3 separate regions of the Homo sapiens genome follow, and regions 2 and 3 are each linked to region 1. The links come from fine-mapping of genetic effects on gene expression. A gene starts in region 1. Each other region holds a variant in brackets. All regions are shown on one strand. Distances are from middle to middle.

Region 1 (8,178 bases):
GTTTCGCTCTTGTTGCCTAGGCTGGAGTGCAATGGCACGATTTTGGCTCACCGCAAACTCTGTCTCCTGGGTTCAGGCAATTCCTCTGCCTTAGCCTCCGAGTAGCTGGGATTACAGGCATGCGCCACTACGCCCAGCTAATTTTGTATTTTTAGTAGAGATGGTTTCTTAATGTTGGTCAGACTGGTTTTGAACTCCCAACCTCAGCCACCTGCCTCGGCCTCCCATAGTGCTGGGATTACAGGTGTGAGCCACTGTGCCCGGCCACTTTTTTTTTTTTTTAACTAAAATGATAGTTTAATCTTTTGTTATTAATAATAAAAGTGTGATATCAGTCCTTGCCAAAAGCCAACTCAAAAGTTAAGGGAGAAGACAAAATGCACTAGTCACTCACAGTATAGTAGTAAACAATGTCATATATGTGTGTGTGTGTGTGTTTTTGAGGGGAGGGATGGATTTTCACTCTTGCCCAGGCTTGAGTGCAATGGCGCAATCTCGGCTCACCGCAACCTCCGCCTCCTGGGTTCAAGCGATTCTCCTGCCTCAGCCTCCCCAGTAGCTGGGATTAAAAGCATGAGCCACCAGGCCCAGCTAATTTTGTATTTTTAGTAGAGACGGGGTTTCTCCATGTTGGTCAGGCTGGTCTTGAACTCCTCAGGTGATCCGCCCTCCTCAGCTTCCCAAAGTACTGGGATTACAGGCGTGAGCCACTGCACCTGGCCTATATGTGTGTTTTTAGAACGCTTCAGGACACTAAAGGTTAAATTGCTATTGCAGTAGATACAGAATTTATTTCTTGATTTTCTTCTTAAAGTTTTTTTTTTAGAAACAGGGTCTTGCTCTGTTGCCCAGGCTGAAATGCAGTGGTGCAATCATGGCTCACTATAACCTCAAACTCCTGGATTCATGTGATCCTCCTGCCTCAGCCTCCCAAGAAGCTGGGACTACAGGTGCTCACCACCATGCCCAGCTAATTAAATTTTTAAAAATATTTTTGTAGAGCTGGTGTCTTGCTATGTTGCCTAGGCTGGCTTTTTTCTTTCTTTTTTGAGATGGGGTCTCATTCTGTCACCCAAAATGGAGTGCAATGACATGATCACAGCTCACTGTAGTCTCAACCTCCCAGGCTCAAGCAATCCTCTCACCTCAGCCTCTTGAGTAGCTGCAACTACAGGCAAATGCCAGCACACCTGGCTAATTTTTTATTTTTTGTAGAGATGGGGCCTTGCTCTGTGGCCTTGTCTGGTCTCAAACTCCTGGCCTCAAGCAATCCTCCCGACTTGGCCTCCCAAAGTGCTAGAATTACAGGCATGAGCCACAGCACCCAGCCTGCTTTTTAAATTATTATTTAAAATAATAGAGACAGCCCGGGCATGGTGGCTCACAACTGTAATCCCAGTACTTTGAGAGGCTGAAACAGGATGGCTTGAGGTCAGGAGTTCAAGACCAGCCTGAGCAACATGGTGAAATCCCATCCCTACAAAAAGTTTAAAAATTAGCCAGGTGTGGTGGCACGCACCTGTAGTCCCACCTACTGGGGAGGCTGAGGTGGGAGGATTGCCTGAGCCTGGGAGGCAGTGGTTGCAGGGAGGCAGTGGTTGCAGTGAGTTGTGATGGCACCACTGTGCCCCAGCCTGGGCAATGGAGTGAGACCCTGTCTCAAAAACAAACAAACAAAAAATTAATAGAGACTGGGTCTCACTATGTTGCCCCAGGCTGGTCTTGAACTCCTGGGCTCAAGCGATCCTCCCGCCTTGGCCTCCCAAAAGTGTTTGGATTACAGGCATGAGCCACCATGACCTGCCCCAGCCCACTTAAAAAAAAAAAATTTAGCCGGGCACAGTGGTTCACCCCTGTAATCCCAGCACTTTGGGAGGCCAAGGTGGGTGAATCACCTGAGGTTAGGAGTTCGAGACCAGCCTGGCCAACATGGTGAAACCCTGTTTCTACTAAAAATACAAAAAATTAGCTGGGCATGGTGGCACACGCCTATAATCTCAGTTACTCTGGAGGCTGTGGCAGGAGAATCGCTTGAACCTGGGAGGTGGAAGTTGCAGTGAGCCGAGATCGTGCCATTGCACTCCAGCCTGGGGAACAAGAGTGAAACTCCGTCTCAGAAAAAAAAAATTTTTTTTAATGGCTTATTGCATAGTATTTTCAAAATATTAATAGGAAATTTTTACTACGATAGGAGAATATGGGGCAGTGGAATTTGTCTGAAGTAACTGTTGAATCCACTAAGTCCTTCATCAACACAAAAGGAAATGCATGAGTACTGATGTTTTGCTTAACTACTTCTCTTGAATAGCTGTGGTTAGTGCTTACTGTTTGATACCCTGTAAAAAGTATTATCTATAATATATAGATGGAGAAGAAGATTATTTCCTCAATGACCACAAAGTGCCACTTGTCAACCAGATCAGTTTTGTTTTTTTGAGAGGGAGTTTTGCTCTTGTTGCCCAAGCCGGAGTGCAATGGCACAATCTCAGCGCAATGCAACCTCCGCCTCCTGGGTTCAAGCGATTCTCCTGCTTCAGCCGCCCTAGTAGCTGGGATTACAGGTGCCCGCCACCACGCCCAGCTAAATTTTTTGTATTTTTAATAGAGACAAGGTTTCACTATGTTGGCCAGGCTGGTCTCGAACTGCTGACCTCAGGCTATCCACCCGCCTCAGCCTCCCAAAGGGTTGGGATTGCAGGCGTGAGCCACCGCACCCGGCAGATCAGTTTTTTATGTACACTGCTGGACAAACAGTATTTTGGACTGACTCATTGTAGCTTTGGAAATGTTTGGATTTTTTAATAGCTTTAACCTTTCTTGACCAAAATTCCACTATAATGGCTGCTTAGATTTGGATGAAAACTCAACAGCTTTATTTTTTAAAAGTTTGATAGCTTTATAAATGCTTTTTTAAAAAATTCCGGATGTGAAAATATTTATGTTTGTAGTTAAGATTGACCCAAGTGGGACTCTAGATCGGTGGATTCCAACAGAAATGTTTCTTCAGAGATGATTATTAAATAATGGGATGGACTAAACAAAGAAGGTGCCCCCCCCCCACCAAAAAAAAAGATATATATACATAGAACTAACTTTCCGGTAAACTAAGCAAATTCCACGAGGAATGCAAAGATGACCATTTTTGAAGGTAGGAATTTAAATTGGGTTTAGATAACAAATAACGGGTTGTAGACAGCTTACCCATAATCCCTCCTTCCCCCAAGCACTAGGCAGTGAAGTTAGACTTCTGGATTCCACCTCCACGCTCACCGCGCGGCACTATGCAATCTTCGGTTAGTTACCAGGTCTAAGTTAGGCTTCTGGATTCCAACTCCACGCTCCACCGCGCGGAACTATGCAATCTTGAGTTAGCTACCGGGTCTAAGTTAGGCTTCTAGATTCCAAATCCACGCTCCACTGCGCGGTAACTACATAATCTTGGGCTAGTTTACCAGCTCTAAGACTTAATTTTGCCATATGCAAGATGGAGATAACATCCAACTCCTGGTGTGTGAGGATTACGTGAATCCTTGCAGAATGTGGCTCAGTGCCTGGGACATAGTAAGCGCTCTACGGCTTCTGCTAGCATAACGCTGTTAGTTTCTCTCATCCTCCTACATCTACCTATCTCAACCAAGGTCCTGCGCTAAGCAGGGGCCTCCAAGCTGGGACGCAGCCCTTACTCTCAGGGTCAGCGCCGGCTGGGAAGGCCGCGACCTAACCAGGAGATTACGAACAATGTCACCAGGGCCACAGCGGAGCTCCTGCCAAGTCAAGCAACTCATGGAACCAACGGAGGCGAAGTCCGAATACCTAGGCAACCCTAACCTAAAAGTGTTTTTAACGTTCTCAGGTCCTATAATTTACCCAAATAAAGTGGGACCGTATTTGCAGGCGCTGAGAAACTTTCTCAACAGTAAGAACCAATCAGGCGCAGTGCGCAGGCGCCTTCAGTGGGTCCTGGGTCCGCCTCTTCCGCCCGGTGCGGGCGCCGATTGGTCCGCGTGGACACATAAGAGGCTGCGTATAGGCGCGAGAGCCCCTTTCCTCAGCTGCCGCCAAGGTGCTCGGTCCTTCCGAGGAAGCTAAGGCTGCGTTGGGGTGAGGCCCTCACTTCATCCGGCGACTAGCACCGCGTCCGGCAGCGCCAGCCCTACACTCGCCCGCGCCATGGCCTCTGTCTCCGAGCTCGCCTGCATCTACTCGGCCCTCATTCTGCACGACGATGAGGTGACAGTCACGGTGAGTGCGGGCGCGGGCCGGCGGCCGGGCTGCCTGTGGGCGGTGACTTTCGGCTCTCCATGCGGTTCCCGGCTCCAGGCCGTTCGACTGAGCACTTCCGGCCGGGGCCAGGCCGCGAACACAGGCCGCATAGGGCGGGCGCTCCTCGGGGCTGGGGCCTCTCTCCGGGCAGGTCCTGGGCCCCCGGGACCACGTGCGGGCCCAGCGGGCATGGAGTGCGCTTGAGGCTGGGCGCTCCGGCTCCAAGAGCCTTCGTGTAGAAAAGCTCTTCCGCAGTGCTTGGGCACCCTGACCCGTGCCTCGTCTCTCTCAGGGACACTTACTCGGACCTCTTTCGGTGTAATTGCCTTGAATTCCCCCGGTCGTGGAGGAAGGCGCCCGAGCTCGGCTCCACCTCCCAGGTCTTGTAACTTAAAAATAGCCGCGTGACTCAGGCAAGTCCCAGCCCGTGAAACAGCAGTGATGGGCTCGCCTCATTGCAGGGCGCCTGGCACACATCTCTTTTGCTTGTGATAGAATATTTGAGCTGGTTAAACATGTTATGTACACTTATTGAGTGACGTGCAGCATTTTGGAGATATTACATACGCTACGTTTTGATGGATTGACGTTTTTATTTGTTGTAGGAGGATAAGATCAATGCCCTCATTAAAGCAGCCGGTGTAAATGTTGAGCCTTTTTGGCCTGGCTTGTTTGCAAAGGTAAGGTGATGGTGGCAAAGTGATTGTGGTAAGGCCTGCTGATTTACGAGGGCAGTTGTACATGCTAAAGTACCCCCAGCGGTGCCATAACGCCCCACATGCCGCTGGATCTCCTAGGTGTTTTTCGTTGCATGTATATCTCTAGGAGCTAATAAGATTTCAGCTTGTCAAGTCTTACGTTTCCTTATCAGACTCTGGTTTCCCTTTTGCTCTGAAACCATGGTTAAAAAAAATGTGAATCAGGTCATTTATTCCCAAAAAGGGTCACTCGGGAGATAGGTACTACGCATGTTAAGTTGCAAGCAAATTCTTTTTCTTTTTCTTTTTTTTTTCTTGAGACGGAGTCACCCAGGCTGGAGTGCAGTGGTGCGATCTCAGCTCACTGCAAGCTCCGCCTCCCGGGTTCACGCCATTATCCTGCCTCAGCCTCCCGAGCAGCTGGGACTACAGGCGTGCGCCACCATGCCTGGCTAATTTTTGTGTGTGTGTTTAGTAGTGACGGGGTTTCACCATGTTAGCCAGGATGGTCTCGATCTCCTGACCTCGTGATCCCCCCGCCTCTGCCTCCCAAAGTGCTGAGATTACAGGCTTGAGCCACCGCTCCCGGCCCGCAAGCAAATTCTTTCAGTAAATTCTTGCATTAAACCTATGGTTTGATGGACATTTGGGTTTAGCGGACTTCATTGACACAGTAGGTACTGTGTGTTGGGATATAAAAGACTAATAAAGAGGTTCCTGGTCATGGAGCTTGCACTGGCTATTTTCCATTGTACAGGTTACTTAATCTCTGTCAAGTGAAGCTAATAGCATCTAACTCCAGGGTTGTGACCTCTAAAGAGTTTTGAAAGATTGAAAACATTGTACCTATGTCATATTTAACAAGCCCCTTTTGAAGTCCTATATTTGTTTAGTAGACTGAAAATTTGAATTCACTGTTAAGAGGAGACATGGAACTGTGGAAAGAATATTCATTTGAGTGTTTCAGGAAGTTTGGATTTTTTTTTTACCAACATATTATTTGTAAAAGGAGGGAAATCAGCTGCCTCAGGAGGTTCTTAACATATAGGAATGTAATTATCAGATTCAAAGCTGAACAGTAGTGCGTTGCCCTGTAACCTAAGTCTTGGCTGTTAGCAAAGAAAAGCCAGTGTCTGGGGTATTGGTTCCAGGACCTTCCACTAATAACAAAATCCCAGGATGTTCCATCTCTTATATAAATGTATTTGCATATAACCTATGCACATCCTCCTGTATACTTTAGAAGTCTACATGTTTGGTACACATGCTTATTTTTCCACTGTTGAATCCATGGATGTGGAACTCACTGTATATAGTGTTAGGGGTTGATCACTGTAACCTGGAATGGGGGATACTTTTCGTTTTTGGCTGCGTGAGTGCTTAACAAGGACAGAACTGGGCGTTTACCTATGCATGCACATGTATTGCAGGCCCTGGCCAACGTCAACATTGGGAGCCTCATCTGCAATGTAGGGGCCGGTGGACCTGCTCCAGCAGCTGGTGCTGCACCAGCAGGAGGTCCTGCCCCCTCCACTGCTGCTGCTCCAGGTAGGAAACATGGAGTTTTTAGTATTGGGAGGAGTGTAGAGATTTTTTAAAAAATAGTATTATAGACAAAATTGCCATTAATTTTTCACAAGTATATGAAGTATGGAAATCCTAACACCTGATTGACTTTTTTTTTCTAGCTGAGGAGAAGAAAGTGGAAGCAAAGAAAGAAGAATCCGAGGAGTCTGATGATGACATGGGCTTTGGTCTTTTTGACTAAACCTCTTTTATAACATGTTCAATAAAAAGCTGAACTTTACTGCTGTTGGTCTTGTCCATAGTTTTGGAATGTGCTCTGCAAAAATGGTCTGTTTTGTAATGTTGGCTTTCAGCCTATTCTGCCATGACACAGGCTGGATTTTCCCTGCCACCATTGCCGGATGTGAGATTTAGACAATCCTGATGCTAACAAGAAGGCACCTCATGGTACAGTGTTGAAAACTGCACTGGGGTGGCAGGAGGAAGGATCAGAGCAGATGCTTTGTCCAGGTTACCTGTGTAAACTTGATGATTATAAGGTGTGTCCCCTACACTGGGGGTGGAGGGTAATACAGACCAGCTTTAGAAAGCCTCCTGGGTATTTACCCTATACAACCCTGCCTAAGAACGAACTTTGACGTATGCTGAATGTTGACTGCTACATCCCAAGGTTGTAAAAAAACAAGACTTAGCTATGTAATGTCTCACCAAATGTTTGGGAGTTTTATGGTAACACTGAAGGAGTGCAGAAAGTTTACTTAATAGTTTATTAAGGTCTCCAGTTACACAAAGTGGAAAAAAAAAAAGATTCAAACCTGTGTTCCAAAAACTAAGAGCTTTTTTTGTTTGCCAATTAATAATACCATGAATGGAATTTTCAACTTTTCAGGCTTGGATTTATATAATAAACCGTGGGTATTGTGTGTTCAGAGCAGCTAATGACATGCCAGGCACATGAATGAGTCTTATCCTTACCTCCATTAGCATTTAGTAGATGAAGACATTCAGTGATGAAAAGCGTGACTTCTAGCCGGGACTCCTCGTGTCAATGTGAAAAAGACCATTTGTGTAAGTTACTACAACTACTTGGGGAAAATGGCAGTTCTACTTTGAGGCATTACTCAAGAGAAACTACATGTGGACATAGGATACATGCCTGGGAATGTTCAAAGCAACACTTGGGGCTTCTCATAAGCTCAAAAAAGACATTAAATATATGCATCTGCTAAGAGTAATAAATACCAAAGACGGGATAGTGAACAATTTAGGACCTTGAGCAAGGTGGAGTTGACAATGGGTAGGAGTATGTAGGTGTCAGTATTAGAGTTTTATGTTTTAAGTTTTTTGAGAGGGGTTCTTTTGCTGTGGCCCAGGCTGGAGTGCAGTGGTGCAGCCATGGCTTACTGCAGCTTCAAACTCCCAGGCTCAAATCGGTCATCCCACCTCAGCCACCCTCAAGTAGCTGGGACTACAGGCATGCCACCATGCCTGGCTAATTTTTTGTAGGAAAACCTCAATCTCCTGGTGTTAAGTGATCTGCACGCCTTGACCTCCCGAAGTGCTGGGAGATTGCAAGTATGAGCCACCATGCCTGGCTAGTTTTGTGTTTTTAATACATGGCTTGAGCATCCCTTACCCAAAACCCAAAACGTAAACGTGACACGCAAAGGAAATGCTCATTGGAACGTTT
Region 2 (8,178 bases), 120 kb before region 1:
AAGGAGGTGGGGGATGAAGGGGAGAAAAAAAAGAATATAAATGTATTGACAATCACTGAACTAGATGGTAAATTATATATGTATATTTTACCTAAATTTATTTTTTCTTTCTTTTTTTTTTTTTTTTTTTTTTTTTGGAGAGAGAGCCTTGCTCTGTCACCTCGCTCTGTCTGATTGTTACCAGTGCAGTGGTGCAATCTTGGCTCACTGCAACCTCTGCCTCCCAGGTTCAAGCAATTCTTGTGCCTCAGTTTCCTGAGTGGCTGGGACTACAGGTGTATGCCACCACACCCGGCTAATATTTTGTATTTTAGTAGAGACAGGGTTTCATCATGTTGTCCAGGCTGGTCTTGAACTCCTGAGCTCAGGCAATCTGCCTGCCTTGGCCTCCCAAGGTGCTAGGAGTATAGGAATGAACCACTGCAAACAGCCTCAATTTTCGGTTTTTAAATCATCCTAAAAGTTTTTGCCGCTGATGGCTCACTCTCCTGAATGTGTTCTTTGTAGTAATAGTAGCCATAATAGTAGCCATAGTGGTAAATACCACTGGCATTGATTCAGGGTTTTGTAGCTAATAAAGTTTGTTCACATCTATTATTATTTCATTTTAGCTCCCCCATAGCCCTGGCCAGGTAGGTATTAATGTTTTTATTTCACAGATGACAAAAATGAAAGTCATTTGGAACAAGCCCAGCCAAATTCATACCTAGGAGATGGTAGAGAGAAGACCTGACCTTGGTCACCCAAAATCCCAAGCTCTATGTGCCTCTCCCCATCTTCATAGAACATTCTCCAAGCTTAGGCAGTCCAGGGTACTTGTTACAATACACCAGGGAATGTTAGTGAAACCACCTGTGCAAAATTATGACTGAGACCGTGAAAGAGATCTAACTTAACTGACTCCATCTTGCTTCTAACCCCAAGCTGTCTTTGTTCATTCCTGGGCATAGGCTGAACTTACTTTGGGAGAAACTGGGTTTGTAGTTTATGGTTTAAACAAAAATGGTAACAGCTCTTTCCCAAAGGAGACCTCCTTCTTGCCTGGGGACTAGATTAACATTAGCCACAGAATTAGAAATTATGGTTTAGGAGTCATGCAGTTGGAGGCCACAAGATTCTGACCCTCCCTAGACTGCTCTTAAGATCAGTGCTTGGGATATTTTGCAGACCCTGCACTCGGTGGATCAGCAGGCACCACCCAGATCAATGAACTGGCTCCTCTGATCTTGTGGCCCCCTCCCAGGAACTGAGTCAGTGCAAGAAGACAACTTCGACTCCCTATGATTTCATCCCTGACCAGCACTCCTGGCTCATTGGTTACCCACCCCCCAACCACCAACCAAGTTATCCTTAAAAACTCTGCTCCAGGAATGCTTGGGGAGACTTATTTGAGTAATGATAAAACTCCAGTCTCCCACACAGCAGGCTCTGCGTGAATTACTCTTTCTCTATTGCAATTCCCCTGTCTTGATGAATCGGCTTTGTCTAGGCAGCAGGCAAGGTGAACCCCTTGGGCACTTACAAATTTGGTGGCTCATCCAGGATTGCCCTTGTGGCTACCTGCCCATGGTTCGGTGGCCCCACTCCAGTGATGGATCCAGAAGCCAGCCCAAGCAGCCACCTAGTTCTCTTGGACTAGGGGCTGACTCAGGGACTCTCTGTACTGGTGGGGCACTGCCAACCCAGTGTACATCGATCTAATTGCAATGGAGAAATAGTCCTGGGGCGACGTTCCTTAACTGTAGCCCTATCACAGGGTGTCTGTATAGCCTATGATGGGGTGTCTGTCTGTAGCCCCATTGTGGGGTGTCTGGATTGGTGAGTAACCTAGGTGCTGCCAATGCCTCCTTCCTTCTCGCCACTGGTTCTGTAGCCCTATGGTGTGGTGTCTGTAACTCCACCATGGGGTGTCTTGTGTCTGTAGCCCCATTGCAGGGTGTCTGTTCAGCTCCTGCGGGGTCTCAGTTGGCTCTTTCTAACTAGTAAGAAGAGTCTTGGTTTGAGAGACTTATCCTCAATCTGGAAGATTTCGAGGCAGTTTCTCAGACGGAGAATAGGAGGATAGTTTGGAAGGGATACTCTTGGAGTTCTTGGTTAGGGATCTGATTTAGAAGGCCTTCTGTCTATCTCGTCTTTGTGTGTGTCTGTGTATGTGGAAGGGATCTCAGGAGAGGTTGCTAATGGAAGTCCAGCAGGTCTAACTCAGAGATCCCTCCTTATTTGCCTGGTTACATTTGGTAAGCCCTAAAGAAAGCTCAACAGGCCTGTCTCTCGGGGTGACTATCTGGTCTTCGCCTTGCCCAGAGACTCCATTGTGAATTACCATTTGGAGGTCATCCCTCCCCTCCCCACCTGGAGTGGATCAGAAACAGGGAGCAACGGGAAAAAGTTTGAGCTTTACCAGACTTATATTGGGTGCTGAATGAGGTGACTAATGTCTGTTCTGTTGTGTATATTTTGCTGGGATGGAAAATGTTAATTTGGTTCCCCATGCAACCTGTTGGTTAGCATCTTGCAAATTGAGAATCTTGCCTATGGTTCCATAAAACAGTAAAGTGGTTTATTTTTTCTCTTGTAAGTGGCTTGAACCTCACAGCTATAGCACAAGCGAGCAGGGTCATGAGAAGCCACTCTTTCTTCTGGAAGCTGCAGAGAAAGAGAACCCAGAAACCGGGTATGCCAGCAAAAAGGGTGAGAAATTCTTACCAGCGAAGATTCTGGTCTCTCTTTCTCTGTCTGGGTAAAACAGTAAACTATTGGTCTCCTCTGCAAGGGTTTGATTAATAGAAAAAAGGATTTGTGAGACTAGTCTTAGGCGGTAGCAAATCTGCTGTACTTTGTGCTAAGAATTTGTTTTTCTTTGTTCTGTAATGGAGAGAGGGGTATCACAGGATAGAATGTGGGTTTAGGACCCCTATAAGCCCGCTTTTCAAGCCAGCTTGGCAGGCTGGTCAGTTACAAACCTTGCTACAGGTTCCTGAAACCAATACTGGATGAAATTTCTCTGTCTTGCTTTGTGTCCTTAAGAGCTTAACCTTTTGACCATGTGGGGATACTTTCTCTTGGTTTCTGCCATCCAGAGGACAGGAATTTTGGGGTTCATGTCATAGTCCTAAAAATTTTTTCTTGAGCAGTTAAAAGCCTGTGCAAGCTTGAAATTGGCTTCTCTAGGCTCCTTCTGGGGAGAGGAATAGAAACTGCTCAATGCTGTAACTCAGTAGCTGAGGCTTTGCTTTTTGACAATGGCAGCCTGAGTTTTAGTCTTGGCTTCTGGAATGATTCCTTTCTGAGTTTTATTTATGAAACTTTGCCATTTATTGAGGTTCCCCACCCCACCCCCACCCCGGCCAACCCATGGATAGCTTCTGATTTCCTGTCTTGAGTTTTCCTTTCTCTAAACTACCCTGGGGGAGATTCTAAATCTTGTAAAAAAAAAAAAAAAAAAAAAAAAAAGAAACGGCTTACCTTCTCCTTGAGACATGAATGTGTCCATGGTTAAGTTATAACCTTAGCTAAAACTTATTAATTTCATGTGGGAAGTTAACTGTGGTAGAATTTAAAAGCCAAAAATACTGGTC[G/A]CTTAGTGTTAAAGTCGGGTAATAAAAAATTTAAAAGGATATTTTTTAAAGAGCGCTATGGTTAAAAGTCAGCTTAATTAAAAGTGGATAAACAAGCAATAGGTATATTTAAAAGGCCTTTATGTTTTCCTCTTTTTGGGACTTGTTTTTTTCCTGGGAAAAGGTTTTTTCTTCTCAGTTGACTGAATTATTTTTTTCCATTTTTTTTTATCTTGCCAATCTTAATACACACATGAGAGGCCCTAAGATAACTTCTGGTAGCCTGGGACTCCTTGGGAAAAACAGAGGAGGCACCACGAACCCCGTTTTGGAAAAAAGGCTCTGTTTTCCTCATGAAACCCCAGGAATTAAAAGCGGATAGATCCCTCTCAGAATCAAAGGCTCTGTTCTGTTTTTCACTGTGTTATCTGACAGTTTTGATTTTTAGGGGTATCAGAAATTACTTATTATGAGAGAGCTTTGGTGTGTAATAACTAGGTAGGAAATATACTTTAGGGAGTGGCTAATAGTAGTTGTGGAGGGATACTTGACTCTGCACACTTGGATCAGAGACGCATGCTCTCGGCCACCTGGAAGATAAGGAGGCGTCCCCACCCCGCACTGGGAGATGAGACTCCTGTGAGAGATGGGCCGATTACAAAATGGGCTGATTGGCTTTGGGTTGCCTTGAATGGAATGCAGGGTAGAAGCATTGCACGGTCTTCTCCCACAGTATTTCCCTCCTGTTGGGGATCCAGGATCCAGTATAAAATGGCACCCTTAATTTTGGGGATCTGTCTTTGCCTTCAGCTGCTTATTTGCTGCTTATTTGGCTCTAGAAATGCATGCTTTCCCGGCCCTGCTCCTCCAAGGGCTCCACCCTAAAGCCAGTCACCCAATTAAGAAACTGGCAAATGAAAAATTTTACAAGTGCTGAATCTTCTGTCTGTCTGTATTCATATGTGTTGTGTGTGTGTGTGTGTGAGATGTTTGTATAAAAGAGCTCTGGTTAATTGGCTTAGAAATATAAGCATTTAAATCAAATATTTTATCAGAAAAATAGAAACCGTAATACCTTTTTGTTCACATGACTTTAGTAGTCTTTTGGAAATAAAGACGGTTTTTTTGTTTTTTCTTTGAGATGGAGTCTCACTCTCTCACCAGACTGGAGGCAGTGGCGCAGTCTTGGCTCACTGCAACCTCCACCTCCCGGGTTCAAGTGATTCTCCTGCCTCAGCCTCCCAAGTTGCTGGGGCTACAGGCGCCCGCCACCACGCCGGGCTAATTTTTTTGTATTTTTAGTAGAGATGGGGTTTCACCATGTTAGCCAGGATGGTCTCGAGCTCTTGACCTCGTGATCCACCCACCTCGGCCTTCCAAAGTGCTGGGATAACAGGCATGAGCCACTGCACCCGACCTGGGAAATAAAGACAGTTTTAAAGATTATTGGTAAAATAAAATGTCTTGAAAATGTAGACATTTGGTCTAAAATAAGGTCAGGTATCAGATTTGCTAAATGCTTTAAGGTCAAACTGTTTCTTTGACTTTTGAGAATTGTTCAATTTCCCTACTTTGGAGCATTAGATGATAGGTAAGGCCTGGGGACATGTGGAGAGCCATGCCCGCCAGCTATGCTAAGAGTCAGACCTTATCTTCATTTCTGATTGATGTCCTAGGCTCCACCCCAGTACATAATTAAAATCGCTTACTTACCAGGTTTTTCACTAAAAATAAAAGTTGCTAAGATTTAACATTGTAATATGTAGTTGAGACCACTGGAGAATGCGTTTTACATACTAGGTGTGTAGGGAATGTGTTTTTGGTAAAAGATGATCAGAAGGCATGGGAATATGGCTTTTGTTAAAGGGAATGTAATTTTGTCTACTTCAGAGGGTTTTAAAGATTGTCTTAACCCAAAAGAGTAATGGAACAAAACTGAAGGTTTAAGCAAAGGGAAAGGGGTTTGTAAAGGGTTGATCTTGTAACAAATTCTGTGGGTATAAACAAGTTGGCTAAGATTTAAAAGAAATTGGCTGGGCGCGGTGGCTCACGCCTGTAATCCCAGCATTTTGGGAGGCTGAGGAGTGGGGATCCCTTGAGGTCAGGAATTCAAGACCAGCCTGGCCAACATGGTGAAACCCCAACTCTACTGAAAAAATACAAAAATTAGCCGGGCCTGTGGCAGGTGCCTGTAATCCCAGCTACTCAGAAGGCTGAGGCAGGAGAATCGTTTGAACCCAGGAGGTGGAGGTTGTAGTGAGTCAAGATTGTGCTCAAGCATGGGCAACAGAGTGAGACCATGTCTCAAAAAAAAAAAGATTTAAAAGAAATTTTAGCTTTTTTTTTTTTTTTTGAAATGGAGTTTTGCTCTTGTTGCCCAGGCTGGAGTGCAATGGCATGATCTCGGCTCACCACAACCTCTGCCTCCTGGGTTCAAGTGATTCTCCTGCCTCAGCTGCCCAAGTAGCTGGGATTACAGGCATGAACCACCACACCTGGCTAATTTTTTATTTGTAGTAGAGAAGGGGTTTCTCCATGTTGGTCAGGCTGGTCTCGAACTCCCCACCTCAGGTGATCTGCCCGCCTCGGCCTCCCAAAGTGCTAGGATTACAGGTGTGAGCCACCGCATCCAGTTTTTTTTTTTTTTTTTTTTTTTTTGAGACAGAGTCTCACTCTGTCGCCCAGGCTGGTGTGCAGTGGCACGATCTTGGCTCACTGCAACCTCTGCCTCCCAGGTTCAAGCCATTCTCCTTACCTCAGCCTCCCGAGTAGCTGGGATTACAGATGCATGCCACCCTTAGGTTAAAGCATTAAAATCATACTGATGTGGGGCCAGAATCTGGGTCTGTGTGTCCGAATAACAGGGTTTTCTTAGAAAACTGATCTGCTGTTGGATGGAAATTTGTAAAGAGTTCTAAAAAGTTTATAAAAATCTTACCTTATGGTCAGACTAATTACAACTGGATCGAGATATAAAATTTTATTTAAAAAACTAGCTTTAACATTAAAGATGCACTAATGCAAGCCTGAAATTTGGTTTTCTCTTTTGAAGACGATTTTTATGTAATGTTAAAAGATAATGAAAGTGGTTTTGTTTTCTCCTTTGGGTAAGTGGCAGGAAAAAAAAGGAGGAGAGAGAGAAAGGAGACAGATTCAGGTGGCTTCATGCTATCTTCATTGAGTCTTGTTTGGAAAGCTAAGTCTCCTCTATCAGAGTAAAGGCTTTCTTTTTTAAAAAAATTTTTTGGAGTTATCATTTTGGCTAAGTGAATGACTTATGGTGACCTGGGATTCTATTTTGTGATATCCAGTGTTTTAAACCTTTGATATTTGACAAACTTTCCAAAATCAAATTATAAATTATATCTCTTTCTAACCTAATATTTTAGATATCAGGTCCTCTAAAGTCCAAAAATGACATTTGGCTTATTTGACATAAAAATCATACAGGAAGCATTGTCAAGTATGAAATGGTGTTTGGCTTTCTTTGGGCTATATTTGTGTAAATGTATTATTGGCATATGTTCCAAAATTATGTAAAACTCCTAAAATTCTAATATGACTTTGTATATGTTATCAGTAATAATTATAATTATGTTAAATGGCTGTGTGCCACAGGTAACAAATCTCTTTGTCGATCGTGTCTTTAACTGTGGCTACCCTATAATGTTTTTGTCATCCACAGATGATTGTTGTCTTATTTTGGTCCTCCTAAAAGTTGGTTTTATAATCAGCTGTAAAATTTAACAGGTGCTCTTAAATGCAGATTTCTGCTTAATAACTCTGGAGATTGTGACTTTAGAATAGACAGAAAACTTTCAAAAGAAAGAGAGAATGGTGTTTGGTTTTCTTTGGACTGTATTTGTATAAATATGTTATTAGTATGTGTTCCAAAAGTTATGGGAAACTTCTATAATTCTGATATGATTTAGTGTACATTATTAATAATTATAATTGTTATGTAAAATTGTTGTATGCCACAGAAGTGGAAGAACCAAAATTCCTAGTCAATTGTAGCTTTAATAGTGGCTATAGACTTTTGTCATCCACAGACATTTTGTCTTGCTTTGGTCCTTTTCAAAAGGCAATTTATAATCAGATACAAGACTCTGAGTGCAGGTCTCAGATAACTTTAAAAATTGTACTATTGGAATAGAGGAAAAAAGGAAACTTCTAGGACTCTCGTGGAGAGCTGGTATGTTAAACATTGCTAATCCTTTTGTTTTCAGAGTAAAGATTACTTATTTCTTTAGAGCTATTTGCAAGCTTTAACAAGTGAGTAAAATATACTCCTGTGGAAAATTTTGGAGCATATTTGTTTCTCTCTACCTGATTGCTCTAGAATTTGGAAACCATTTGTGTGTATTCTCAATTTATGGCAGTATAGTTAATTACATAAGTGCAATAAGAATCTGTTTTCTTTTGTCACAGGACACCATTGGAGAAACTGGGCATTTTACCAAGGATTTGACTGGAATGGCATGCTTCCTTTAAAGATGAAAGTTGACTTTTAGAGCCAATTAAAGCCCTTTGGGGAATCTGGCCTCATACCTTGTCCACACAGAGTTCCTGTACAAGGTTCCTGACCTGTGGTAAGTAAAGAACGTCACTTTCTAACAGG
Region 3 (8,178 bases), 110 kb after region 1:
CTTTTGGGAAAGGACACCCAAATTCCAACAGTCACCTACCTAGAAAAATAGATAACCACAGCCATGGTCCATTCCATTGCGACTTGGTGATGTCAGAAGGTCTCAGGCTCAGGAGGGGCATCTCCCAGGGTCTCTCAGCAAATATCCCGATTCCTTAAACTGGGACAGTGTTTTCTGTCTGCAGAGTGTGCTCCCACCTTGGAATGGGCTTGTCTGGCCTGACCCTGAATATGCCCAGCAGGGACTGCATCCCTCAGTTCATAGATACAGAGGTTGAAGGTCAGGGAGGTGAAGACAGAAGGGGCAGCCAGTCAGAGCCAGCAGCTGCAGCAGGACCCAGATTTCTTGATTCTGAGTCCAGGATTCTTTCCACTCCACCAGCTCTCTTGTATGGACAGCTCAGGGGTCAGAGAAAGCACCTTTATTTCTGAATTTCCTTCTTCTCTCCTGTAGCCTTATGACCAGTGTTCAGAAGATTTATCTCTTTCTAGCTTGGGACTTGCACCCAGCAAGTTTCCATGCAAGGCAGCTGCCTTTAAGAAGAACAGAAGAGTCCCAGTTGGGCTTATGGGGAATGAAATCAGTCCCAAGCCCCGATCTCTCTGAAAAGTTGTTATTAAATTCTGTGCCTGGCCCTGACCTGGATTTAAAGATTTGCAAGAAGACAAATTCCAAACAGATGCCCATTAGGGCCGTGACAGCCGCAGCTTAAAGATAACATTTACATTCTGCCGGGGTTTGTATCTCTCTGTTCCCCACTCGGCCCCTCTCTTTCCTCCGGTGGGATCAATACCTCGGTTGAGGTTACGTGGAGGTGGCCACATTCTTTTAAGCTGTTTGCTCAGTGCTTGGTTTGCTCTGCTAACACGCTGGGCACTTCTTCCAACAGCCCTGTTTGCCCAGCATTAGGGCTGTTTGTTGAAACACCTAGCCCAATCCGAGGGGGCTCAGCTTTCTAAACAGTTGGTCCCCGAATCTGTCAATCAATAACACCAATTGGGTTCCTGATACGAACAGCAAGTGTGGCCAAGTCCAATATTTGCCCAAACACTGCCTCCTCCCCCTGCACCTGACTGTCCCCCAGCTTGACTAAAAGGACGATCACCAGGCGCATGGGCTGCTGGGAAGATACAATGTTGGCAAACAGGGAGCTGGTTCCAGGAAAGAAGGGCACATGAGCAAACATGATGGCCCCTTTATGAGAGGTAATTTACTGAAATGCACAGCGATTACCTGCTCACCCAGCCCTGATGTAATTAAAAATGGCAGGCTAGGGGCTCTGTTTCCCCCGGCTCTGGCAGAGAAACCTGGGTTTCGACTTGTGAAGCTTGAGGTTGGATGTGGGAATTGGCTTGGAGTCATAGGCGATGAGAGGGACATTAGGATATTATGAAGCCCGTGAACTCAACTCCTGAGAAGGACGCAGCAGAGCGAGAGAAAAGGTATCTTCAAAAGAGGCTGATGTTCAGTGGGTACGGGCTTTTCTTTTGGGATGAGGAAAAAAATGTTTTAGAACTTGTGAGAGGTGTTGGTTGTGCAGCATCGTGAATGGACTAAATGCCAAAGAATCGTTCACTTTAAAATGGTTAATTTTATGTTGTGTGAATTTCATCGAAAAAAAAAAAATAAAAAGGGTGAATCCCAATGAACCCGGGTCGTTTACATTTCAGAAGCTCTAATGCCTAACTCAGGGTTTGGCTCAGAGTAAATGCTTAATAAATGTTTATTGAAAGAACAACCTAACATTTGCACAGTCAACAAAGCTCTTTGTTATACATTAGCTCATTTCATTTTTAAAGAATCCTCTGAGGTGGGCAGGGGTAAGCATTCTCGTGTTGTAAAGGGGAAACTAAGGCTTTGAGAGGAGTGTGGCTTGCACAGTGTCACGTAGCTAGTGGCAGCACTGCCAGAATTCAAACCCAAAAGTCTCTGGCTCCAAAGTCTGTGCTTGTAAAGCGATACTATTTTGTCTACCTCATGGCTTTCAGGATGGGAAAGAAAGCAATAGGGTTTTAAAATATGTTCTCTCCCCTTCTTTTTTTTAAGGGTATTTATTACTAAAAGTGTTTTAAAACTGGACCACTGAGTAAAGTCACTCCATCTCCTACTGTTCCTAGCACAGTGCTTGATAAATATTTGCTGGCTCATTCAGCTGCAGCTGCAGAGACCTACCTGTGTTTGCTGTGGCGACTGTCCGGGCCAAAGCTCAGGCAGCTGGAAGTATCAGTGAAGCCAGAAGATTCTAGCTGTTCAGGGTCTGTGAGGAGGAGTCAAGGTCTGGGGTTTGTGTCCTCTGGCATAGCAATGGCACTGCAATGGGGGAGCCTGTTGCTGGGCTGGGCCATCTCGCCACTGTCACCTGCCTGTTGAGGGGTGACGGTGGTTGTTGAGAGGCTGGATCAGACCCCAGAGGTGACATGGATGTGGCATATTTGTTGGACTTACACAGCCTTGCATTTTATTTTCATCTCTGTTCCTTCCTCCCATGAGATCTTGGGTGGTGTTTATCAACCCTGAGTAATCGTTTCTTTGTCTGCAAGATGGAATAAAAAGGCCTACCTCATTGGGCTCGTGTGGGTGAGGAGAACTGAAGAGTCTGAGAGCGCGGCACGAGCCAGAGGCTACGGAAAACACTGCCCTCCTACACTCCACCTTGGAGAGACCCAGAAAAGAACAAGCTTCATTTGTAAAAAAGGAAAACAACTCAGGCAATGGGGGTGGCTTAAAGTGAGTACCCTCAAGGGGCTCGATCAGACCTCTGGCCAGAGAGCCTTTTGGGAGTGGGGTGAGGGTTGGTTGTTGCAGGGTAAAGGAAGTTGGTGTCTTTGGGAGGGGCGCTTGGCTGTGAGGTGACCTCTAGTTGTATTTGGCATAAGGGGAGAGGAGGGAACAGGGATTAGTAAGGAAGAGGGCTAAGAGACTGCCAAAGGTCTCCCTGTTTTGCCAGGGTTCTGGCTGGTGGGAAGCTGGGCCAGGGAGGTAGGGACAGGAGTAATCACCCTCTATGATTGCAGGGCACTCTACAGTGTGCAGATGCCTTCCACTTCTTCCATCTGCCCTGTCTCTCCAAGAACCCCTATGGCCCCGGTCTCAGAACAGAGCTGAGTGCAGAAATGAAAATCTATGGCTCTGTGTTCCAAAACGATGAAGAATTTCAAGATGGTGGCAGTGGTAAAATCTTTCTCCAGGAAAAATCTGTCCTTGGCCCAATGTGTAAACACTTGCTGAGGTACTGTGGAGCTTCATAATGCTGATGATATTGATGATGATGATAAGTATATAAGCTTCACATTAGGACAGTTTTTGTTTTTGTTTTTTTGAGACAGAGTCTCACTCTGTCACCCAAGCTGGAGTGCAGTGGCACCATCATGGCTCACAGCAGCCTCGACCTCCCAGGCTTAAGCGATCCTCTCACCTCAGTCTACCGAGTAGCTGGGACTACAGGTGCGTGCCGCCATACTTGGCTAATTTTTGTATTTTTTTATAGAGGCAGGGTTTCACCATGTTGCCCAGGCTGGTCTCAAACTCCTGGGCTCAAGCAATTCACTGCCTCCGGAAGTGCTGGGATTACAGGTGTAAGCTACCATTCCTGGCCTTAGGACAATTTTATTTATCTAATTTAATTTAATTTTTTTTTTTAGATTTTTAAAAATTTTTATTTATTTATTTTTTTAATTATACTTTAAGTTCTAGGGTACATGTGCACAACGTGCAGGTTTGTTACATATGTATTCATGTGCCATGTTGGTGTGCTGCACCCATTAACTCGTCATTTACATTAGGTATATCTCCCAATGCTATCCCTCCCCGCTACCCCCACCCCACGACAGGCCCTGGTGTGTGATGTTCCCCACCCTGTGTCCAAGTGTTCTCATTGTTCAATTCCCACCTATGAGTGAGAACATGCAGTGTTTGGTTTTCTGCTTAGGACAATTTTAATACTTATCCTTTAATAAAAACTTTATTGCACATGGAAGTTACTTTGGGGGAACTCCTAGTTGTAGAGTTGGCTCTTGAAACAAGACTCACTCATAGGCATTTATTTCTAGAATAACATTGTCAGGGTACAGAATTGTATCCTTTAGGTGGGACACAAATCCTAAAATGACATCCTTTTCAGGTATAATTTGTGTCTGGTATCTGGTATCAAATATTCTTGCTTTTAAAAAGTAGATTCAAAATGAACAATGATAGCACAGTGATTGTGAAGATGAAACAAAGTAACTTGAGTTGCCTGATTTGATCATTCTAGGTGGC[C/T]GGTGGAGTTATTTCTGTTTAAAATTTAAAACAATGAAACAGAGTATGAAATGTGAGGTGTAATATTTGTGTTTAGTAAGTGTATATTTTAGTTCATGCTTGAAATATTTTACTGAATTTCAATAATGTTTTTAAATTGAAACTTACTTTTTAATTATTTTGAAATGGCAGAACAAAATACAGACCATAGATTTATCAATGTTGTACCGTCTGCTAACATTTTGCACTTATTAAAATCCTCTCATTGGTCTCTGAATAATTATTTACATAAATTATTAGAATGTCACCAAAGGATGAAAGTCAAACTGATAGGTATATTTAAACATAAGTAAGTAAATAATTGTGCATCGTTGTCCTGTAGGAACTTGGAATAACTTGCAGTGTCTTGCAGTATTGTGAAACCAGCAACTTGTTCACAATTCTTCTGAATTTCTTGGGAAATTTGAAGTGGAGTACCTGTACCAACATGAAATGACACGAATTTAAGTGACGCTCAACAACGAAAAGCAAAAAGAACCAAAGAGGAAGCAACTGAAACAACATCTGGATGTATTTAAAAATATACAATGCCTCCAAAATCAGGTGTCATTAATGAAAATTCTGAAGAAATGCCACCGGACATAGCCAACGCACCTACGCTGTTGTTATTCATTTCCTGCTTTTCACAGAAAACAATTTTGTTGCATGGAAGATCGGTGAGTTAAAAAAAGACCTGCCCTGGGTGTCAAGCACAGTAGTTACACCGCTGGTTCTGCTCCCTCTGCTTGGGATACATGGGCAGGGTGCCCTGGTGGTAGGGCCTTGGTCACCAGCAAAGTCAGTTCCCATGGGATCCTCTTTCTGAGCTGATGCCCACTCCCCTGAAGAAGGGGCTTCTATTCAGGCCTCTTGTTGCAAGGAGCAGAAACCCACTTAGGCTGGCTCAAGTCCGCTGTGTTCCGCTGTTCAGCATCCTGTTTCACAGATGTGTCCCAGCCTCTCTTGGGGTATGACACGAGGCTGGCAGGGGAGACCCAGGGAATGTCACCAGTCCTTGGGGTTGCCTCAGCTCAAAACAGTCCTTCCTTTTAGCCTTTTTTTTTTTTTTTTTTTTTTTGAGATTGGGTCTTGCTCTGTTGCTCAGGCTGGAGGGCAGTGATGTGATTTCGGCTCACTGCAGCCTCCACCTCCTAGGCTCAAGCAATCCTCCCACCTCAGACTCCTGAGTAGCTGGGACTACAGGCACGTGCCACCATGCCTAAGTTTTAAATTTTTTTTGTAGAGACAGGATTTCGCCATGTTGCCTAGGCTGGTCTCAAACTCCTGAGCTCAAGTGATCCACCTGACTCAGTCTCCCAAGGTGCTGGGATTATGGGCGTGAGCCACCCTGCCCGGCCTCCTTCCTTCCACTTTTAGGTAGCTGTGTTCAGAGTGCGTCATCCAGCAGAGGCAAACAGGTACAAAATTTCTTCCAAGGCCCTGTGGGAAATTTTTATTAATTCAGTTGACAAATATGTGTTAAGTGCCTTCTTTAAGGACAGACAATGTCAGACCTGACTCAGAGGCTGTCTTCCTTGGGGAGCTATGGCAAACATGAGCATGACCAGAATTCAAGGAAGGGCAGGACGGGGGCTCTAAGAGAGAGGGAGGTGAGTTGTTATGGGCATGTGAAGAAGGGTGAGAGAACTTCGCCCCAGGGGTCTCCAGGAAGGGCTGGGGGCCTTTGTAGAAACTGAGATGTGCCAGGAGAGAACATCTTCTAAAGAATGGCATGCTTGGCTGGGCGCAGTGGCTCACACCTGTAATCCCAGTGTGTCCGGAATTGGTGGGTTCTCGGTCTCAACTGACTTCAAGAATGAAGCCGCGGACCCTCGTGGTGAGTGTCACAGCTCTTAAGGTGGCGTGTCTGGAGTTTGTTTGTTCTTCCTGGTGGGCTCGTGGTCTCGCTGGCTTCAGGACTGAAGCTGCAGACTTTTGTGGTGAGTGTTACAGCTCATAAAAGCAGTGTGGACCCAAAGAGTGAGCAGCAGCAAGATTTATTGCAAAGAGCAAAAGAACAAAGCTTCCACAGTGTGGAAGGGGACCCGAGCGGGTTGCCACTGCTGGCTCGGGCAGCCTGCTTTTATTCTCTTATCTGGCCCCACCCACATCCCGCTGATTGGTAGAGCCGAGTGGTCTGTGCGGACAGGGCGCTGATTGGTGCGTTTACAATCCCTGAGCTAGACATAAAGGTTCTCCACATCCCCATCAGATTAGTTAGATACAGAGTATGGACACAAAGGTTCTCCAAGGCCCCACCAGAGCAGCTAGATACAGAGTGTCAATTGGTGCATTCACAAACCCTGAGCTAGACACAGGGTGCTGACTGGTGTGTTTACAAACCTTGAGCTAGATACAGAGTGCCGATTGGTGTATTTACAATCCCTGAGCTAGACATAAAGGTTCTCCACCGCCCCACCAGACTCAGGAGCCCAGCTGGCTTCACCCAGTGGATCCCGCACCAGGGCTGCAGGTGGAGCTGCCTGCCAGTCCCGCGCAGTGCGCTCGCACTCCTCAGCCCTTGGGTGATCGATGGGACTGGGCGCTGTGGAGCAGGGGGCGGCACTCATCGGGGAGGCTCGGGCTGCATAGGAGCCCATGGAGCAGGTGGGAGGCTCAGGCATGGCGGGCTGCAGGTCCCCAGCCCTGCCCCGCGGGAAGGCAGCTAAGGCCCGGTGAGAAATCGAGCACAGCGCCTGTGGGCTGGCACTGCTGGGGGACCCAGTACACCCTCTGCAGCCGCTGGCCCGTGTGCTAAGTCCTTCATTGCCTGGGGCCGGCAGGGCCAGCTGGCTGCTCCGAGTGCGGCCCGCCAAGCCCACGCCCACCCGGAACTCCAGCTGGCCCACAAGCGCCGCGCGCAGCCCGGGTTCCTGCTCGTGCCTCTCCCTCCACACCTCCCTGCAAGCTGAGGGAGCCGGCTCTGGCCTTGGCCAGCCCAGAAAGGGGCTACCACAGTGCAGCGGTGGGCTGAAGTGCTCCTCAAGTGCCGCCAAAGTTGGAGCCCAGGCAGAGGAGGTGCCGAGAGCAAGCGAGGGCTCTGAGGAGTGCCAGCACTCTGTCACCTCTCACCAGCACTTTGGGAGGCCGAGGCAGGTGGATGACTTGAGGCCAGGAGTTGGATAGCAGCCTGGCCAATGTAGGGAAACCCCGACTCTACTAAAAATAAAAAATTCAGCTGGGCGTGGTGGCACACACCTGTAGTCCCAGCTACTTGGGAGGCTGAGGCAGCAGAATCGTTTGAACCCGGGAGGCGGAGGTTGCAGTGAGCTGAGATTGCACCACTGCCCTCCAGCCTGGGCGACAGAGCAAGATCCTGTCTCAAAAAAAAAAAAAAAAAAAGAAAAGAAAAAATGAAGACTGGCATGCTGTGTTTATTTATACCAGCTCTGTGACTTTGAGCAAGTCCCCCCTGCCTTCTGGGACACAGCTCCCTCCTCTGATGAAGCGGGGTGGGAGGGCCAATGGTCTGACATTGACATTATGGGCTGAATGTAATGAGGATAAAGTCAGGCAATCACAGAGCGCCAGCCCCCATCCAGAGTTAAGTGCTTAATAAACGGTGACTGATGGCAGGTTCTCAGGGTGTCCCAGGAACTTCCCCTTCGCTGGTGGTTCTCTACCCTGAGGCAGAGTAGAATCAAGGACTTAACTCAGACCTTCACTCAGAAAAGGCCTTTCTGCAGGTGCTGGGCTAATTCTGGGATGTGGTTCTCTGATGAGAGAACCCAGTCCACACTTGGAATTCCCAGAGGAACAGATACCGTGGCCCTTGCACAACCTTCCTCAAATATACACTGTCTCAGTGGAGCTTTTGAGAGAAGCTAGATAGCTCTTGTAAAATATAAACCGTCATTTTTGTTGCTAATAATAATAATGACAGTAATTCCTAGGCTCCTGCCT

Evidence for each region.
Region 2: its variant is fine-mapped to the expression of RPLP1 in whole blood (INTERVAL, PIP 0.99).
Region 3: its variant is fine-mapped to the expression of RPLP1 in whole blood (INTERVAL, PIP above 0.99).

Annotation. Positions count from the first base shown.
Region 1 is chr15:69,448,779-69,456,956 of GRCh38, forward strand. It overlaps RPLP1 (ribosomal protein lateral stalk subunit P1), which reads left to right and starts at 4,040. Exons shown (of 4, transcript NM_001003.3): 1 at 4,040-4,242; 2 at 4,869-4,943; 3 at 6,392-6,509; 4 at 6,650-7,427. The coding sequence starts at 4,171. The coding sequence ends at 6,729. It overlaps LINC02896 (long intergenic non-protein coding RNA 2896), which reads right to left. Exons shown (of 3, transcript XR_932420.2): 3 at 7,242-8,178. RefSeq lists enhancers at 3,746-3,795, 4,076-4,325, 4,476-4,585 and a silencer at 4,346-4,395.
Region 2 is chr15:69,329,353-69,337,530 of GRCh38, forward strand. PAQR5 (progestin and adipoQ receptor family member 5) reads left to right here. Exons shown (of 9, transcript NM_017705.4): 2 at 7,989-8,149. Among named protein-coding and RNA genes, the nearest start is that of PAQR5, 35 kb to the left of the region's middle. The variant G/A (reference allele first, on the strand shown) is at 3,579.
Region 3 is chr15:69,560,576-69,568,753 of GRCh38, forward strand. DRAIC (downregulated RNA in cancer, inhibitor of cell invasion and migration) reads left to right here and starts at 1,145. Exons shown (of 5, transcript NR_026979.1): 1 at 1,145-1,442; 2 at 2,541-2,727; 3 at 3,015-3,229; 4 at 4,649-4,952. It overlaps LOC124903517 (a long non-coding RNA gene), which reads right to left and starts at 6,334. Exons shown (of 2, transcript XR_007064696.1): 1 at 6,036-6,334; 2 at 4,384-5,715. The variant C/T (reference allele first, on the strand shown) is at 4,258.